Linked DNA regions of Homo sapiens. The protein of the gene in region 1 interacts with the protein of each later gene in a pairwise test. Each region holds a gene or a part of one and is shown in the gene's direction. Other genes may lie near its edges. The genes, in order: ITFG1, NUDT3 and FAM118B.

Region 1 (3,725 bases):
AAGACTACTTAGGAAGCTGTATTTAAAAAGTCCCTGTGTGGGCTGATTAGTTCTCAGACTCTACAGTATTTTGAGTAAACTCAAACTCATGTTAAAAAGAAAAATGGCCTTGAACTAGAACTTTGAGGGGAAAGTTATAAATGGATAAACAGGAACTTATTTCCCTTGAGAAGTGTTTTTGGGTAGTGAATGTCAGCATGCTTGGAGTGGGGAAGAAACTGAAGTTGAGTGTATATGAGAAGTGAACTAACTGCATAGAGGTGATTTTTTTTTTATTAGAAATTAAGGAAATTTAAAAGATGTAAATGGCATGTGTTCTGATAAGTTAAAACAAATATCCCAATTAATTTTTTTATTAATGCAATGCACTTTCAAAATTTAGAAACTCTTGTTTGTGTTATAATTTAAAATATTTTTCAAAGTAAAAATAACTATTCTTCACCCTTATTCTCCCCCACACCCCTGTTTCTCTCTCAGATGCAACCACTTTTAAAACCTGTAGCTGATTCTTCTAGTGTTTATTACCATATTTTAAAATAAAATTTTACACTAATTTTCTTGAATTATCATTTTTAAATATTCAATTCTTGTTTTTTAACTAACATAATTTATCTACATTGTCCCAGTGTAATTAAATCATAATTTTTTGTTAAATTAGTAATCATTGTTTACCTTTTAACCATGTGGTGTCTATGTACTTCAGAACCAAGTAATGTACAGTATTTCTTTTCTTTTTCTTTTTTTTTTTTTCTTGAGACAGAGTCTCACTCTGTTGCCCAGGCTGGAGTGCCTTGGCATCATCTCAGCTCACTGCAACCTTTGCCTCCCGGGTTCAAGCTATTCTCCCACCTCAGTCTCCCAAGTAGCTGGGATTACAGGTGCCTGCCACCATGCCTAGCTAATTTTTTGTATTTTTAGTAGAGATGGGATTTCACCATGTTGGCCAGGCTGGTCTCGAGCTCCCGACCTCAGGTGATCCACCTGCCTCGGCCTCCCAAAGTGCTGGGACAGTATTTCATTTTTTGTGCAGCTTGCCCTACTGGAATAAATGATTGCTTTTTAAAAAATAGATTGCATAGTTTTCTATGTACATACCCTTAATTTCTTTGCAGATATTCCATCATATCTGCCATATACCTATCCTGCATTTTTGTTTTTCCCATTGGATCCTCTACATTCCTATCCAGTCTGGATTCATTCTCCAGGCCTTTTGTAGACTTACTATGTGGGGAATTTCCCCATGTAAAAAAAGAAATTTCCTCATTTACTTCACGGGGGTGTGTCTTTCCAGAAATTCCTGAGAAAGGATGCCTGATAAGTCCTGTCACATCCAAAAAGTTTTTCTACCCACTTTTTTTTTTTTTTTTTTTTAGAGACAGAGTCTCACTCTGTTTCCCAGGCTGGAGTGCAGTGGCACAAGCTCAGCTCACTGGAACCTCCACCTCCCTGGTTCTAGCAATTCTCCTGCCTCAGCCTCCTGAGTAGCTGGGACTACAGGTGCACAACGCCACGCCCAGCGAATTTTGTAGTATTTTAGTAGAGACAGGGTTTCACCGTGTTGCCCGGGCTGGTGTCAAAACTCCTGAGCTCAGGCAATCCACCTGCCTTGGCCTCCCAAAGTGCTAGGATTGTAGGCATGAGCCACCGCGCCCGGCATCTACCCACTCTTAAAAGTTTGGTTAGCTTATTGTGTTCTAGCTTCATGGGTTGCAGTTTTAAAATTCAACCCTCTTCTTTCTCCTAATCTTTTAAATGTAAATTGTTTTAATTTTGGAAGCTATTGGAGTCTCTTCTTTTTCTATTTTGTTCTGATTTCATGATGATGTGCCTTGGTATAGATTTGTTTTTCTTTTTTGATAAAGACAGGGTCTTTCTCTATCACCCAGGTGAAAAAGGAGTGCAGTCACACAGTCATAGCTCACTGTAGGCACCTAATCCTGGGCTCAAGCTGTCCTCCCACCTTCGCCTCCCAAAGTGCTGCAATTACAGGAATGATTATTCTTTACTTATTATGCTAGGCATTATGTGGGCCCTTTCAAGCTAGAGGCCTCTATCCTTGGGAGCTTTTTGAAATACTCTTACATTATTAAATATTTCTTTGAAAAATTTTTTTGTCTCTTTTAGGAGTTTCTATCAGTTGATTAGTCTGCCTGGGTTCATCCTTTATTCCTTTATCTTATCTGTTTCTTATTTTTATCATTTAGTTTTGTTTTATTTTCCTTTGCAGGAGGTTTTCTCAACTTTCTCTTTTAAATTCTAAGTCCTTTTTTTTTTTTTTTTTTTTTTGGTGGGGGATGGAGTCTTGCTCTGTTGCCCAGGCTAGATAGAGTGCAATGGTCCAATCTTGGCTCACTGCAATCTCCACCTCCTGGGTTCAAGCGATTCTCCTGCCTCAACCTCCCAAGTAGCTGGGATTAGAGATGCACGCCACCACGCCTGGCTACTTTTTGTATTTTTAATAGTGACAGGGTTTTGCAATGTTGGCCAGGCTGGTCTCAAATTCCTGACCTCAAGTGATCCACCCACCTCCACCTCCACCTCCCAAAGTGCTGGGATTACAGGCGTGAACCACCGCGCCCAGCCAGGTGTCACATTTTTAATTTCCGAGGTTTTTCTTTTGTTTTCTTACTGATGTTGTCTTTTAGCATACTGTTGTTGGTTTGTTTTTTTTTTTATAGACAGACTTTTTTCTCTTAAGTGTAATTTTGAAGTTTTCTTTTGTTGCATTAGTTCTGTTTTCTTCAGGTTCCTTATTGCTATTTGTTTTAGCTCTCTTTAATAGTCAAAGTTTTCTTCAGAAGGCAGGTGTCTACTCACATTTTCAAGTAAGGTGCAAAAGAAATAATTGGAAATGTATTGCCTAGTGGGACTAGTCTACTATCTTTTGCCCTGCATGTATGTTCTTGACAGACTAACATTCTAGAAATAGGGTAGAGCTGTGGGCAAGGGTTAAATTGTTCCTTTTGTAGACTTTTGGTTAACTCCTGTGTCTAGCTTAAGGCCAAAACCTTACCCATTACTGTAATTTAAATCCTTAATTCCTGAGACTTTCCAGAAATACACCACTTGGTTCTTACCTTGCTGAGTGAGAGGGAGAAAGAACTACCACTGATGCATTAAGAAAGTAATTATCTATAGTCTAATTGGAAATTTGCTGTCTTGCTATTTCATCTGAGTAGAATTAAGTATAAAATGAATTAAAGGCCTAATTTTTGCTTGGGTCGCTCAGATAATAAGACTGCAGGACGTTAAGCTTTCAAGATTCATATAAATAATTTTAGAATTATTTTGTTAATAAAAATATATCAATACCTATGAAAAGGAAAAAATAAAAATATACATATAAAGTTAGATATATATGTTTGGATGCTATATTGATTGCCAAGTTTCGTTAAAAAAAATTCCATTCTTAATTTACTAGCTTTCAGAAATAAAATGATTCTTTTAATTTTTACTGTAAATTTTGAATTTATGTTAAAATCCAAACTAAATATTTTATAAATAATATCTTTTAATTGAAAACATCCCAGTGATAATGCTTACTGCTTTGGCAATTATGAGCCTCCATTTGTTAGAAACACCATCCGAATGTCTTGGTGTCCTTGACAAAGGAACTATATAGAAGGGCTATACTAGCCATTGCTTGAACATAATAAACACGTTTTCTCTCGACATATTTCAGATTTGTCTTGTTTCTTGAGACTATTCTGCATTCATTCTGAACT
Region 2 (3,967 bases), on another chromosome or scaffold:
AAATATGATGTAATCGGGTGGTATGAGCATTAAAAAAAATGTAATTGAGGTTACAACCAAGGTGTATTTGCTTTCAAATCCAGATCTTTTTGACTATGCTAAATACAAGCAAATTCAAAAAGGGGAATTAGCCGGCTGCTGTGGCTCACACCAGTAATCCCAGTGCTTTGGGAGGCCGAGGGTGGATAGCTTCGAGGCCAGGAATTCCGGACCAGCCCGGGCAACAAAATGTTAAATAAAAAAATTTTAAAAAATTAAATAAAAAAATTTAAAAAACAAAAAAGGGTATTAAACAACTCACAGACAGATACTGCACAGGATTTTTGGTACGTTTAGGGCATCTGCATGGTACTTGGTTTGTTCTGGGTTGCTGAGAACATTCACAGGTCATACACCAGTTTTCCTTTCTGGAGAGCTTCTGTCTGTATATCTTTTCCTGGAGAATCTGTTTGACATCCACAACACACACTCCTCATTTATTGCCAGAAACGATGATGTTTTATGATTTACATTATGTGTGTACACACGCACGCACGCGCGCGTGTTCCTTTCTGGCCCTCTTGTTTACCATAAGAGGAAGCAATTACCTTTAGCATCAATAAAAGATTGCAGAATAAATATTTGTTCTTTGTAATGGGCGACATGCACCAGCCCCTAAGACATCCTGAGGTTCAGGCTATCAACGCAAAGTGCACACGCCTCCCATGCGCCGTTTCCTTGCAGTTCCAAATCCCAGATGTCTCAGGCTGCAGCTTCCGTTGCCTTTAACTACATCCTCCTTTTTCCAACAAACCTTCCCCCTCAACCCCTTCGAGACCGACCGGCAGGGCCCAGGGGCGGGTGGCGTGACCTTGGTTCATCCTCGGCCGCGGAGACGCGGCGTGACCTTGGCCAAGTCCCCGCTTCCCCATCCGCAGACTTGCGCGGCTGGACCGCTCGGTCTCCGCTCCGGCCGCTAGGCGTCCTGCGCCGCTGTTCTTATCTCCCCCGGCTTCCTCCGCGCACCCCACCAGTTCTACGCCTACGCTGCCGGCGTAGCGGTCGCCTGGAGTCGCGCGTCCCTCTCCTTTCAGATGCTGGTTTCCACCGCGCGAACTGGGAGGGCGCGATTCGCGAACGCGGCCTGCGCTGCGAGCGCGCGGCCGTCCCGCAGGCCGGTGCAGCCTTACGCCGCTGACGCATCGCGCCCAAGATGGCGGCGCGGTCGTCGTCGGGGGTGGCGGCGGCAGAGGGGGCGGCGGCCCTGGCGGCAGCGGAGACGGCAGCCGTGACGGTGGCAGCGGCGGCGCGGGACCTGGGCCTGGGGGAATGAGGCGGCCGCGGCGGGCCAGCGGCGGAGCCGTGTAGCGGAGAAGCTCCCCCTCCCTGCTTCCCTTGGCCGAGCCGGGGGCGCGCGCGCACGCGGCCGTCCAGAGCGGGCTCCCCACCCCTCGACTCCTGCGACCCGCACCGCACCCCCACCCGGGCCCGGAGGATGATGAAGCTCAAGTCGAACCAGACCCGCACCTACGACGGCGACGGCTACAAGAAGCGGGCCGCATGCCTGTGTTTCCGCAGCGAGAGCGAGGAGGAGGTGAGGCGGCAGGCTGGGCGGGCCGGGGTCGCCGGGTCTCCGGCCCCTTCGGGTGGAGGCGCGAGGGGCGCGGCCGCCGGAGGAGGGTGTGCCAGGGCCGCCCCGCTCGGGCGGAATGAAGTTCCGATGGAATTTCCTGAGGCGAAAAAAGGGGGAAGGAGAAAGGACGTTGGGGCTGAGGGGAAGCGGGTTTGAGTGCGGCTGCACAGGGCGCGCCGGGCGGAGGGGGTAGCCGGCTTGTGGCCGGAGCGCTTCGGTTCCGCCGCCTGTTACCGGGGAGAGCGGCCGCGGGAGAAGGCAGTGGGCTGGGAAGAGTGCGGCTTTCGGTCCAGGCCAACGGCTTTGATCCTGGAAGGGCCGCTCCGCAGTTGTCAGCCAGGCACATGTGTGCGGAGGCCGGCGTGCACGAGGCGCGGGCCGGCCTTTGTGGCAGAGAAATAGTGCACTTCATTGGCAGGTTTGGGGTTTGCCGAGGGATTATATGTCTGTGAGCCCAAAGCTGAGGGGTGGGGGTGGGGTGTCTTCGGAAGATTTAGGGCGTTGTGCATAAGCCATAGCCAGCTGTTTATTTTACAGTGCGCTGGGTAGCCTTTATGGTGTAGTCTGAGAAGAAAAGACATTTGATATAATAATCTTTGTGTGCTGAAAATGTTTCATGTTAATTGGGAAGACCAAAAGCGGTATTTAACATTTTTGCCCTGACGTTCCTCCACTGCCTTGTGGGAAGACTCTTAGGATTAAATTAGCTAGGAAAATAATGTTTTAGAATCAGTTTCTTTTTATAATAGGTAGGGTACTTTAAAAAAAAATCTCGGCTTCCCAAAGCCGTTTCTGTGGTGATGAAGGGAATTCAGAGAAGCACATGTTTTGTAAATCCACAAAAGAGTAGCTGCTTTGGAAATTCATAAGATGCCTGTGGGAATGCATTTCTCGTGTGCATGGTGGTAAAATGGCAGTTAAACTGGAAACAATGAAGGACAGTGAAATCCAATATGTTATATTGGATTCAGCAGTGGGCTATGGTGGCAGGGCCGCAGTACAGTGCAGTGTCGAAATGGGGAAAGGAACTTGACCCGTTAGTTATGAAAAGAAGCTGTGGCGAAAGAGACAGATGGATTGCCAGGAGTTGCTGTCCAGAGGTATTTAGGAGGAAGTGGGAATTTGAATTACTGCCTGAAGAAAATTAGTTAGTGAATTGTGTTGTTAAGGGATCCCATGTGTGCTCCCTTTCAGCAAAACAGAACGAAAGGAGATTTGGAAACGTATGCTTTGTATCCTACCATATATTGTAAAAGTCCCCAAAACAGATGCATTGTAATAGCTAACCAGGGCCATGCTGTAAATTATATACTGTTTTGGAATGCATATTTGAGTAAAGTAAAATTATTGGTGGTGCTTATTGCTCCAGAGCCTTTATTCTCCTCATTATCATATCATGTTATGGGAAATCAGATGGGATCACAGGCTCTTAACTGAAGGGAAAACTAATTAGCATAATAGCATGTCTTACTACACTAGTATGCATAAATCTGTGAGCACCCCAATTATAAGTATAATTTAGTTGTACGAATGATGCAAGACTGTTTGTTTTAAAAAAATCACACCAGGCCGGGCGTGGTGGCTCACGCCTGTAATCCTAGCACTTCAGGAGACCAAGGTGGTGAGGCCAAGAGTTCGAGACCAACCTGGCCAACACAGATCCCCATCTCTAAATATAAAAAAAAATAATAATAATAAATCATACTAGAAATAGAAAATGTATTTTTGATAAATTGAAAACTATAGATCATAAGCAAACTAGCAACGGCTTAATTTTCCATTTTCTGTTAAATGTTTTGTTATGCACTGACATTAGCAACATTAATGTTGAAAGCTTACTTGTCTGTTTAGGCTACCTCACGGCATCTCACAAGTCAGACCAGGCATAGGACTTGCCTTCTAGGAGCTTACTTTTTTTCTTTTTTTTTTTTGAGACCGACTCTTGCTATGTCGCCCAGGCTGGAGTGCAGTGGCCCCATCTTGGCTCACTGCAACCTCTGCCTCCCAGGTTCAGGCGATTCTAGGAGCTTGCATTTTTATTTTTAAAATTTTATTTATTTACTTATTTTTATTTATTTATTTATTTTGAGACGGAGTCTCGCTCTTTCGCCCAGGCTGGAGTGCAGTGGCGTGATCTCGGCTCATTGCAACCTCCACCTCCCGGGTTCAAGCTGTTCTCCCTGCCTCAGCCTCCCGAGTAGCTGGGATTACAGGCACCTGCCATAATGCTTGGCTAGTTTTCTGTATTTTTTTTTTTTTTTGAGACAGAGTCTTGCTCTGTCGCCCATGGTGGAGTGCAGTGGCACCATCTCGGCTCACTGCAAGCTCCGCCTCCCGGATTCACGCCATTCTCCT
Region 3 (3,725 bases), on another chromosome or scaffold:
CCTAATTTTCTTTTTCGTTCTTTCTTTGTTTGGCAGAGATGGGGTCTCACTAAGTTGCCTAGGCTTGTCTCAAACTCCTGGGCTCAAGCTCAGCCTCCTAAAGTGCTGAGATTACAGGCATGAACCACTGCACTTAGCCAAATTGGAAGTCTTAATTAGGAAGAATTATAGTTCAAATCTGTATGTTATATAAAAAAATACAGTACAACAGTATAAAATGAAAAGTAAAAAGTCCTTATTCTCTGCTATCCCCATTTAACCACTATTTATACATCTTGTGAATCCTAGAAATTTTCTATGTGTGTGTATATTTGTTTATGTGGATTTGTGTATGCTTCACTATCTTGATTGCTCTGAACTGAAACTCATTTTTCATCATTTGCTTCTAACATCTATTATTAATGTCTTTTCTAGTAGACTGATCTTTCAAGATCAGGGACTCCATTTTGTTCATGGATACATGACTCCCGTAGTGTCTGGTACATACAGGTTTTCCTTTCCTGCCTCAGCCTCCCTAGTAGCTGGGACTACAGGTGTGCGCCACCAGACCCAGCTAATTTTTGTATTTTTAGTAGACACAGAGTTTCACCATGTTGGCCAGGCTGGTCTTGAACTCCTGACCTCAAGTAATCAGCCCACCTTGGCCCCCCAAAGTGCTGGGATTACAGGCGTGAGCCACTGCTCCTGGCCTCGGTTTTTCATATTTGTTGAATGACTGAATGCAGAAGCTCGGGTTAGGGAAAGCAGTTTTAGAGGCTGTGTCCCCAAAACCAGGTTTCCCAAGGCTTGAAAGTGCTATTCCTTTCTTGAGTTATGCCAAAATGCTGATCCTCTCCATTTTATTATTTAGACAAAAAGGTTGGGGAGAAGCCATTTTCAGGGGAGGGGAACATGCCATCAGCAAAAATTAATGTGAAGGAACATATTTCAAGCAGGGATAGTCTCCAGAATGAAAGAGAGGGGAACAAAAACAAAAATTAGCACCCATGCTGTCTCACATATGGGCCTCAGAACAGAGAAGTCTGTCTCTGCTTATCATGGTAAGAAAGGAATGTTTTTCACTTTTTGTCATGTCCTTTGATTAGTTAATGTCTTTATTTAGGTATGTAGGGCCCCTGTGTTTTCAGAATTCTATTGGCCACTTTTTTTTTCTTTTTTTTTTTTGCCTGAGGTTAATGTTTACAAAATTCAGAATTAAATTTTGTATTGCCTTTCCCCTAGTGTTTTACATTTCTCAATAATAGGAACTTAATTTGTCCTGGGGTTCTTTTCTCTTTTTCTAGAGTACAAATCAAACGTCTTCTTTTGAAATTTAATACTGGTTTAAAATATAATTTAGTTGGCAGAAGTCAGCTGAGCTATAGTCTATTTGGATCTTTTCCTAATATTAGTGGAATTTCTTAGGTTGAGAGGACTAGGAAGGGAAAACTGATTTTAAGATTGGTTTTGGGATTCCTGAAATAGGTTTATGACTTGTTTTTCAGCAAGCACTGACACAATATTCTGGTTGTTTTCTTTAAACTGCTTTGGAAAGGTGTCAAAAACTGCTGTTCATCTTCTTTGCAACTATAAAAGTTAGCTAAAAACTGTAACCTGAGTCAGACAGTCTTTCTGTGTGCCTCATATCTATTGGATATTCCAATCCTCTCATTTGTTTTGCTTTTATAGGAAGCTGCTTCCAAGCTTAAAAACTAAGAAGCCTCGAGAACTTGTGCTAGTGATTGGAACAGGCATTAGTGCTGCAGTTGCGCCCCAAGTTCCAGCCCTCAAATCCTGGAAGGGGTTAATTCAGGCCTTACTGGATGCTGCCATTGATTTTGATCTTTTAGAAGATGAGGAGAGCAAAAAGTTTCAGAAATGTCTCCATGAAGACAAGAACCTGGTCCATGTTGCCCATGACCTTATCCAGAAACTCTCTCCTGTGAGTACCCTAGTATGTGCCACAGTATTTGGAATTTCCTAAAATTTAACTATCACAACTAGCATGATTTGGCTGTCAAAACTAGCATGCCAAATGTAACAGGGATATTCATTTACAGCTTGTAGGTTTCCATAACATTTGACTCTTCTGCGCAATGTCTGTTTATGGACCCTACTCAGGACAGTTGTCTTAACCCCATTTCACTGTGTGTCTATGAGAGAGAAATGATGTTGAGGACTTTATATGTACAAATTACCACTGTGTTTTGAATTTATTTTTTTCCTGCATCACTACTATAAAAGCTGTGTTCTGTGGCATCCATGCCTTGTATGGAATCCCACAAAGATTGGAGATAATTTTATCATTTTATACATGAAACAAAACCAGTTTTTAGTGTTCTTTTTAGAGGTAATAAGTCAAAATATTTAGAAGGAATTGCACCTTATTTTACCAAACTGAGTTGGATAAAAGGACTCCCTGTCTTGCTTTGTCTGAAAATTTATTTATTTATTTATTTATTTTTTGATGGAATCTTCTTCTTGTCACCCAGGCTGAAGTTCAGTGGTTCGATCTCGCCTCATGGCAGCCTCCGCCTCCTGGGTTCAAGCGATTCTCCTGTCTCAGCCTCCTGAGTAGGTGGGATTACAGGCATGTGCCACCATGCCCAGCTAATTTTTGTATTTTTAGTAGAGACAGGGTTTTGCCATGTTGGTCAAGCTGGTCTCGAACTTCTGACCTCAAGTGATCTGCCCACCTCAGCCTCACAAAGTGCTGGGATTATAGGCATGAGCCACTGCACCCAGCCTGTTTTAAAATCTTAAAAATCAGGCTTCTAGGGCCAGGCGTGGTGGGCACCTGTAATCCCAGCTGCTCAGGAGGCTGAGGCAGGAGAATGGCTTGAACCCGGGAGGTGGAGGTTGCACTGAGTTGCGGTCGCGCCACTGCACTCCAGCCTGGGCGACAGAGGAAGACTCCGTCTCAAAAAAAAAAAAAAAAAAAGGAATTAATGGGGTTTTAAAGAGTTCATGGAATCTCCATACACTTTATAAAAATTAAAAATGGATCAAAGACCTAAATATGATACCTAAAACTGTAAAACTCTTAGAAGAAAATACAGATTTAAAATTTCATGACTGGATCTGGCAGTGGTTTTTTAGACATGACACCAAAAATGCAAAAAACTAAAGTAAAAAAAAATATAGATAAACTGGACTTCTCCAAAGTTAAAAACTGTTAGGCTGAAAGGACACTGTCAAGAAAGTGAGCCGGGGATGGTGGCTCATGCCTATAATCCCAGAACTTTGGGAGGCCAAGGCAGGAGAACTGCTTGAGGGCATGAGTTCAAGACCAGCCTGGACAACATAGTGAGACCCTGTCTCTACCAAAAGAAAAAAAAAAGTGAAAAGACAGCTTCCAGAATGAGAAAATGTTAGCAAATCACATATCTCATAGGCGTATAATATCCAGAATCTATAAAGAACTACTGTAACTTAATAAAGGCTAATAATTCAATTTTAAAATAACGATGTAGTTGAATAGACATTTCTCCAAAGAAGATACACAAACGGCCAATAAGTGCATACGAAAAGATGTTCAGCGTCATTAGTCATTAGGAAAATACAAATCAAAACCACAACAAGGTGCCATTTCACACCCGCTGGCATGACTAGAATCAAGAAGACAATAATAAGTGTTATTAAGGATGTGGAGAAATTGGAACCTTTGTGGGAATGTAAAGTGATGCAGTTGCTTTGGAAAACAGATTGGCAGTTCCTCAAAAAGTTGAACAGTGATTCTATGAACC

The links.
Region 2: the proteins of ITFG1 (region 1) and NUDT3 interact in a two-hybrid assay, tested with the Homo sapiens proteins (one large-scale study listed by BioGRID and IntAct).
Region 3: the proteins of ITFG1 (region 1) and FAM118B interact in a two-hybrid assay, tested with the Homo sapiens proteins (one large-scale study listed by BioGRID and IntAct).

Annotation. Positions count from the first base shown.
Region 1 is NC_000016.10:47,454,339-47,458,063, reverse strand, and holds part of ITFG1 (T-cell immunomodulatory protein isoform 1 precursor), read left to right. Parts: intron 1-3,725. UniProt on the Homo sapiens protein: Modulator of T-cell function. Has a protective effect in graft versus host disease model.
Region 2 is NC_000006.12:34,389,870-34,393,836, reverse strand, and holds the start of NUDT3 (diphosphoinositol polyphosphate phosphohydrolase 1), read left to right. Parts: upstream 1-1,167; 5' UTR 1,168-1,474; coding exon 1,475-1,573; intron 1,574-3,967. UniProt on the Homo sapiens protein: Cleaves a beta-phosphate from the diphosphate groups in PP-InsP5 (diphosphoinositol pentakisphosphate) and [PP]2-InsP4 (bisdiphosphoinositol tetrakisphosphate), suggesting that it may play a role in signal transduction.
Region 3 is NC_000011.10:126,239,124-126,242,848, forward strand, and holds part of FAM118B (protein FAM118B), read left to right. Parts: intron 1-1,668; coding exon 1,669-1,921; intron 1,922-3,725. UniProt on the Homo sapiens protein: May play a role in Cajal bodies formation.